Regions from separate parts of the Homo sapiens genome. Here region 1 is reported to be linked to region 2. Evidence: microRNA targets listed by miRTarBase, many of them from high-throughput screens and not tested one by one. Region 2 holds a microRNA gene; the other region holds the end of a gene's coding sequence.

Evidence for each region. The annotated mature microRNA hsa-miR-2115-5p reads AGCUUCCAUGACUCCUGAUGGA and lies in region 2 at 2,700-2,721, opposite strand. An mRNA with a match to its seed (bases 2 to 7 or 8) in the 3' UTR can be bound and repressed. Matches are read on the target gene's strand: a 7mer-m8 pairs with bases 2 to 8, a 7mer-A1 pairs with bases 2 to 7 and ends in A, and an 8mer does both.
Region 1: miRTarBase lists ZNF236 as a target of hsa-miR-2115-5p. Seed matches in the 3' UTR shown: 7mer-A1 at 3,580-3,586.

The regions. Positions count from the first base shown.
Region 1 is chr18:76,967,571-76,971,848 of GRCh38, forward strand. It overlaps ZNF236 (zinc finger protein 236), which reads left to right. Exons shown (of 31, transcript NM_001306089.2): 31 at 645-4,278. The coding sequence ends at 769. Among named protein-coding and RNA genes, the nearest start is that of MBP-AS1, 11 kb to the right of the region's middle.
Region 2 is chr3:48,313,719-48,317,996 of GRCh38, forward strand. MIR2115 (microRNA 2115) reads right to left here and starts at 2,741; the gene lies at 2,642-2,741. The region is part of intron 6 of SPINK8 (serine peptidase inhibitor Kazal type 8 (putative)); the gene reads right to left.

The sequences.
Region 1 (4,278 bases), not on the chromosome of region 2:
GATCTGTGAGATTTGTGATTTGGTTGTTGGAGGTGGTGTGATCTGTGAGGTTTGTGATTTGTTGTTGGAGGTGGTGTGATCTCTGAGATTTGTGATTTGGTGTTGGAGGTGGTGTGATCTGTGAGATTTGTGATTTGGTGTTGGAGGTGGTGGTGTGCTCTGTGAGGCTTGCAGGTGTTCTTTGGTTGTTTGAGGTGCGGTACTTTGTGAGGGGAGCTCGACGGCTTTCAGTGTAGGGAACCCGAGGGCAGAACACTATATTGTGGGGAGTTTTTGAGGAAGGAAAAAGGGGTAATTTTTTCTCTTTAACGTCTACACTGTAGTGCTTCCTGCTTTCCTTTTTATTATGGAAATCATGTGTGTTGGTTATTGCTCATTCCTGATGCTGTGTTAATGTAGCTGTCATAGGAGTGCACTCATATCACCAGTGCTGTGTGTGCGTTCATACTCCTAACAGTAACTACTGTCCTGCCGGCAGAGGTGTTTCACCTGCAGCTCAAATTACTCTTTTTTCACTGGAATGAAAAGCAAATTACTTTAGAAATTCCTTGTCTCTTTCTACCAGAAAGTCTTTATTTAAATAGGAATCATTTTGTGCTCTGGAAGGTCTGAGGCTGCTTGTGTTTTCTTTGTCTGCATAACAGGAGCTCTGCAGGAGTCTGCAGGTCACCCGGAGCAGGACGGGGAGGAGCTGAGCCGGACCCTCCACCTGGAGGAGGTGGTGCAGGAGGCCGCCGGCGAGTGGCAGGCCCTCACCCACGTCTTCTGATGCGAGTTGGAAGTACACCTTTAAGAATGTTTCTGAAGTTACGTTTTGTGAAGAGCAAAGCACTTGGAATCTCCGTTTTAAAGCTTCAAGTGTTAAAAATGCTACAATAGTTTTTTATCTATAAAATTATCTAAAGAATCATTGTCTTTCAGAGACTCATAGGAAAAAAAAACTAGGAAAAGTGTCACCGCATTGTTCTCTTTTGTCTACAAATCACTGAACTCAGGTACTACTGTAGGCAGTTTCCTCCTCAGTCTCCTCCGTGGCTAGTGTGTCTAGTTCACGAAGCAATTAACTGGGTCTTACTATCATTGTAGTGTGATTTCTTTGTATTAGCAAAGACAAAAACGCTAACATTGAAAAAGTATGTCAGATTTTCCTTCATGTTTCTGGTTATAAGAAGCATAGCTTACAAAGCAAGCGTAAGATTGAGGCATGAAGTTCAGAAAAAAAAGTGTTACAACACACAGGGAAGTTTTTTCCACTCTTTTCTCTGTGCATTTTGAAAATTAGTCAAAATGGACTCTTTTCAGTCTACCATAAGTTAATATAACTGATACCTTGAGAGATGGCTGGACCAATTCTCTCCATGACAAATGTTTAATCATTAGTTACAAGAATGCAGTATCTGGGGCGTCAACATGGGGACTCGAGTAAACCTGACCCACCAATAAGGATTCAGCTGTCCACACGGGCTGGCGACACACTTACCGCATCAATCTGTGTTCAGGTCCAGGGTTACATAATTGCAGAAGCACAAGCCATACATCGCAGGTAGGAAACCACAGAACCGTCTGCAAGGAGCAAGCAACGGTGGCCCTGTCCACCCCAGCAAATAAGAAGCATATCTGTAGCTTAAGGCCACGAATCCGTAAAAACCCCATGACTTTCTCTTCGTGCATAAACAGATGTATTTTTGATTTCAGGGAATTCTTTAGTATCGTCAATGGTGCCACATAAAACATGTCCCAAACCAAATCCCACCCGTGCTGGGCAGAGTGCGTGCACGCCATTCCTACAGCATTCCAAAGATGGAAGGTTCTTTACTTCATGTTAATTTTTCCTTTGAAATTATTTATATGTTCTATATATAAATACATATGTACATAGATATATGGGCCTCTGTGTGGCTGAACAGTATATTTTGTAAATATAAGTACTAGTCCTAATTGCAGAAAGAGCGTCAGTTTCACCTCCCCACGAGCACTTCAGATCAGTATTGTATTCATTTTATTCATAAATGGATATCTTTTTCATTGTCATATAAAGCTGGGTTTTATTTTTTTTTCCTGAAAAATAATTGCCTTTATTTTCTCTCGTTGCCTCCTTGGTTTCAGAAGAGAGTAGTTTTATTATAAATATTGTATGGACTTTGTATATTAAGAGAGGAGCTCATTTCAGATTCCTAAAGAAATAGACATTTTACTGTTATTTTGAAAGGGCATCTTTTGATTTTTTTGTTGTTGTTGTTCACTTTTGGCATATGTATATAAGTAATATTGACGGTGATATGAAAACTTTTGTTATGTGAAGATATTTAAGTCAGAAAATTGTTAAATAATATTACTTCTTTTCCAAACTGCTTTGTGTATTGTATATTTTTTTAAGAAAAAGAAAAGCCTTATTTGACTTATGCTTGTGATACTGGACTTCTTACCAATCCGGAGGTTTCCTTCCTTGAATGTCAGTGTGTAAACCTGGCTGTAGCCGCATATGCAGAATAACTGTAATTGTGCTAGAGTTTTAAAGGTTCTGCTTTTAATGCACTTTTTATTTTATAATTTTGTATTGAAATATTTTAGAAATGTTGATTAATTTTGGTGAAAAAATATCCCCAAAGTGGAAATTATTGGAATTTTAAACTTTTGTTCTTGCTGGGTTATTTATTTTGATTTTAGCATTAAATGTCATCTCAGGACATCTCTAAAAGGGGTTGTTTAATTCCTAATTGTATAGAAAGCTAGTTTGGTGAATTGTATTGGTTAATTGACTGTTTAAGGCCTTAACAGGTGAATCTAGAGCCTACTTTTATTTTGGTTAAAGAAAAAGAAAATATCAATAATTCAATTTTGTGTCTTTTCTCAATTTATTAGCAAACACAAGACATTTTATGTATTATTTCGATTTACTTCCTAATTATAAAAGCTGCTTTTTTGCAGAACATTCCTTGAAAATATAAGGTTTTGAAAAGACATAATTTTACTTGAATCTTTGTGGGGTACAGGTTGATCTTTATATTTTACTGGTTGTTTTAAAAATTCTAGAAAAGAGATTTCTAGGCCTCATGTATAACCAGGGTTTTGAGGATAAAGAACTGTATTTTTAGAACTATCTCATCATAGCATATCTGCTTTGGAATAACTATAAATAAAAGATGAAGTTAGGAAATGTGATTAATTTTTTTCGTTTGAAAATATTTAAGATAAAACAGTTTGGCATGTAAATTAATTTCAAGTTCAGATATTTTTAAGAGAAAACTTTAGTGGTATTTTCCTTTACCTCTGTGAAGTTCAGAGGCGTTTACCCCTGCAGTGTCCACTGGAAAGGCTTCAGACTTTCAAAATCAGGGCATGGCTCCGCGACAGCGAGCCGTGGGCGTCAGCACAGTGCCCTGTGCATGTGTCAGAACTGTTCCTGTTCCCTTTCATTTGCTGCTTTATTCAACGGCACCCAGTCATTGAGGAACCTTTTGAAAGTTCCTAAGTGTTTTGATCCTGCTTGTGTGCTCAAGTAACCATGAAGCACTGAAGCTGAAAGAATGAATTGCCTTTGCAAAGATACCAAACGTGAAGGTGGGGTGCAGGTACTGAGGAAGCAGGAGGCATGTAGCATGTGTGGAGTCCCACCTGCTAGATAATGCCCAAGCGGCTGCGTTTCCATAGAATGGCAATAGATGAAAATGAAGACATGTTTTCAAACATGCAGATTGAAATGCTACCCCACCCCCATCAAGCTCTACTTTTTCCCCTTTGAAAAACTTGAGGCACTTAGAAAGTATCTAAATAGAGGAAATGCTATGACATGGCATCTGACAGCTTGCAGCCAGGTCAGTGGGAGGCTCATCAAATGCCACTCTCCTCTTCCTGACAGTGTTCTGCTGGTGGGACATGAACATCAGTGCTTGTCTGGCACTTAACTAGGGGATGTTTCCTTCGTGCATATTTTCTACTCCCCTGTTGTAATATTTTAAGGAAACTTGATCTTTGAAATTATAGCTAGTGTTCTGTGTCTTCCTTTGAACTCATATCACATTTATTACAAGAGACGCATGTGTTAGCACAGCTACACAATTTTTAGAAGTAGAAGTGGATTTCTTGTCTTGCTGTGGGTTTTCCTCATTTTAGAAGAATATTTGTAACTCATTAAGATACACATTTTAACATGAAATGACCATCACACAGATTTATGTTTGGAAATATTCAAGATAAAATAGTTTGGCATGTAAATCAATTTCAAGATTTATGTACATAAGATTTTTAAAGGAAATAGGTAAGATATATAGAACTGCT
Region 2 (4,278 bases):
CCTTCAATGAATAAATAAAAAAATTGTGGTATATACACATAATGGAAAACTATTCAGTAATACAAAAAGAAATGAAGATATATGCCACACTGTGGATGAACCTCAAAATGATTATGTAAGTGAAAGAAGCCAGACACAAAAGATCATAGGTTGTATAATTCCAGTTATGTGAAATATACAGAATAGTAAATCTGTAAAAACAGAAAGTCTATTGCTAGTTGCCAGGAACTGTGGGGAGGAGGGAATGGGAAGTTAACTGCTTAATGGACATGAGGTTTTATTCTGGAGTGACAAAAATGTTTTGAAAGTAATAAAGGTGGCAGTTTTATAACATTGTAAATGTACTAAATGCTACCAATTTGTTCACTTTAAAATGGTTCATTTTATGTCATATGAATTTTACCTCAATCTTTAAAAATATGCATTTGCACCCATTTATAGTTATAAGAACTTTGATAAGTTGCTCCCCTCAGGTCTCAGTGTCTTCATTCAAAAGTGAGCCCTTTTGCTTGGACAGTGAAAATGGAGAAGTAAGAATCTTTAAAATTTCCTCCACGAAAGCAACAAGAACACTGGCAAAAATGGTCAGAATCAAGTTTTCCAGAATTCTGGGAATTAAAAAAAAAAAAATCAAACCATGCAGCAATCCAAGGAACATCTATTGAAGAAAAATTGCTGCTTCTCAGTAAGAATAGTGAGTTTCATGGCATTTTATCTTGCTCTGGACCCATCTGCAGCATTCCCAGTTCCATGGTAGTAATGAAAAACAACCACCCACAATCATAGTGAAAACCAGCAGCCTGGCAGCATCTGGAGGGAGAAGACTGGTGTTGGAATGCCTTCAATGCACCATTACCAGAGAATTGTCATTATTTGACCTGTCTGGGTGGTTCTCTGAAAGACCCATTTGCAAAGCTTTTATTTGACCATACTCAAACCTCTCTTGGTGCAAACAGCCTTTTCCCTGGGAAAATTTGTTGAAAACAATCAGAGGCAACTGTTTAACATCATGGCTGCTGCACAGTGTGTAACAGTTGTGAAAAACAATAGGTTAACCAAGAGCTTAAAAGTAAGTTAGGCAATGAGATGTCCATAGGAGGTTTTGAAAAGCTCTAACATGTTACTGGAAATACAGAAGGCCTTGCAGCCAGTGTAAGGCTTTCTGCATGCTCAGAAAAGACCAGAGAAAGTCCCAACATCTCATCTCTAACTAATCTTGTGGGTCTGTGCAAACATCCAGTGACCACTAAAGTGTAGCTTTAAACTGCCTGGTTGAGTAGAGACATGCCTCAGTGCACACACAAAGTTTTTGTTGTCAAAGACTGGGAGATTTATTGGTTCCAGCCATTTAAGGAAATTTTTTTCCAATCATTAGCTGATAATAAGATAATGAGTAGGACCAGATCAATGGCCATACATGACAAAAAATGCATACTTTACAGGATTATTTCAGAAGTCACTAAACTAACACATGGCAACAACAACAAATAACAGCAACAAACCTTGGATAGAGGTGAGAATCTGATTTCCAGAGTTGCCACATTATATTATTCAAAATATTCAATTTTCAACAAAATAGTCATGGCACGTACAAAGGAAAAGAAAGTATGGCTCGCATATAGGATAAAAGTCAGTCAATGGAATCTGTCACTGAGGAAGCCCAGATGTTGGACTTACAAGACATTTTAAATCAGCTATTTTACTTATGTTTAAAGAACTGGGCCGGGTGTGGTGGCTCACTCCTGTAATCCTAACACTTTGGGAGGCTGAGGCAGGTGGATCACTTGTGGTCAGGAGTTCAAGACCAGCCTGACCAACATGGTGAAATCCTGTCTTTACTAAAACTACAAAAATTAGTGGGGCTTGATGGCACAAGCCTGTAATCCCAGCTACTTGGGAGGCTGAGATAGGATAGTTGCTTGAATCCAGGAGGCAGAGGTTGCAGTGAGCCGAGATCATGCCACTGCACTCCAGCCTGGGTAACAGAGTAAGACTCCATCTCAAAAAAAAAAAAAAAAAAAAAAAAGAACTGAAGGAAACTGTATGTAAAGAACAAAGAACTAAAGGCAAGTATGAGAATGATGTCTCACCAAATAGCGAATATCAATAAAGAGACAGAAAAAATTTTCCAAGAACCTGAATAAAAATTCTAAAGTTGAAAATTACAATGACCTAGAATGAAAAATTCCCTGGAGGGGCTCATATAAGATTTGAGCAGACAGAAGAAAGAGTCAAATGTGCTTGAAGATAGACCAATGAATAGTAACCAGTTTGAGGAAAAGAAAGAAAAATAATTATGAAGAAAAAAGAACAAAATGGGTTAAAATGCCTCACATAACCAATAAGATAAAACTCAATTCAAATTGGGAAAAAAATGAATATAGCCACAGAGAAGTGTGGGACACTGTCAAGGGCATCAACATATACATAAAGGGAATCCCTCAAGGAGAGGAGAATACTTGGAAAAATAATGGCTGAAATTCCCCAAGTTTGATGAAAAACTTCATCCAGTAAGTTCAAAAAACTTACAATAGGATGCATTCTAATAGAGCCACACATAGACAAATCATTATAAAATTGCCAAAAGACAAAGGCAAAGAGAGAATCCAAAAAGCAGAAAGGGAGAAGTGAATATCACATGTAAATGATCCTCATACTGCTTCTAGCCTCCATGAATTCTGATGAATTCATGTGATTCCTCCATCAGGAGTCATGGAAGCTGGAAGCAGTGGGATGACAGTCAAAATGCTGAAAGAAAATGAGAGGTGGCCAGGCACGGTGGCTCACACCTATAATCCCAGCACTTTGGGAGGTGGAGGAGGGTGGACTGCTTGAGCTCAGGAGTTCAAGACCAGCCTGGGCAACATGGTGAAAACCTGTCTCTACCAAAAATACAAAAACAAATTTAGCTGAACATGGTGGGGTGTGCCTGTAGTCCTAGCTACTCAGAAGGCTGAGGTGGGAGGATCACTTGAGCCCAGGAGGTCGAGGCTGCAGTGAGCCACAATCATGCCACTGCACTCCAACCTGGGTGACAGAGTGAGACCTGGTCTCATAAATAAATGAATAAATAAAAGAAAAATAAAAAAAGAAAATGACAGTCAACCAAGAATTCTATGCCCACCAAACTATTCTTCAGAAAGAAAGGTGAAATTAAGATATGTCTAGATAAAGAAGAATTGAGGCAATTTGTTGCTAGCAGACCTACAAAATACTAAATAGTCCTTCAGGCTAAAATGAAAGGATCATAAGCAGAAACTTGAATTCATGTGAAGAAATAAAGAGCCAGTTAAAGTAACTATATAGGAAAATAATAGACAGTATAAACATATTTTTGTTTGTAAATCTTTCTCTCCTAAGAGGCAACTGCATAAAACAATTATAAATCTGTGTGAATGGGTGTACAATGAATAAAGCTGTAATTTGTATAACAAAAACAGTTCAAAGAAGGATGGGGAGAATGGAGCTATTTAAGAACAGCATTTTTTGGCTGGGTGTAGTGGCTCATGCCTGTAATCCCAGCACTTTGGGAGGCCGAGGCAGGCTGATCACCTGAGGTTAGGAGTTTGAGACCAGCCTGGCCAACATGGTGAAACCCCATCTCTACAAAAATACAAAAATTAGCTAGGTGTGTTGGTGTGCGCCTGTAATCCCAGCTACTCGGGAAGCTGAGGCAGGAGAATCACTTGAACCCAGGAGGCAGAGGTTGCAGTGAGCCGAGACCACAGTATTGCACTCCAGCATGCGCAACAAAAGTGAAACTACATCTCAAAAAATAAAAAAAAAGGAGCATTTATTTATTTATTTATTTATTTGAGACGGAGTCTCACTTTGTCACCCAGGCTGGAGTGCAGTGGCGCGATCTTGGCTCACTGCAAGCTCCACCTCTCAGGTTCATGCCATTCTCCTGCCTGAGCCTCCTGAGTAGCTGGGACTACAGGCACCCGCCACCACGTCTGGCTAATTTTTTGTATTTTTAGTAGAGATGGGGTTTCACCATGTTAGCCAGGATGGTCTCTATCTCCTGACCTCCTGATCTGCCCGTCTCAAAAGAACTTTGCTCTGTTGCCCAGGCTAGAGTGCAGTGGCACGATCATGGCTCACTGCAGCCTTGAACTCCTGGGCTCAAGCAATCATCCTGACTTCCAAGTAGCTAGGACTACAGGCAGGTGCCACCATGCCTGGCTAATTTTTTAATTTTTTTTTGTAGAGTCAGGGTCTCGCTATGTTGCTCATGTCTCAAATCCCTAGGCTCAAGCAATCCTTCTGCCTCAGCTT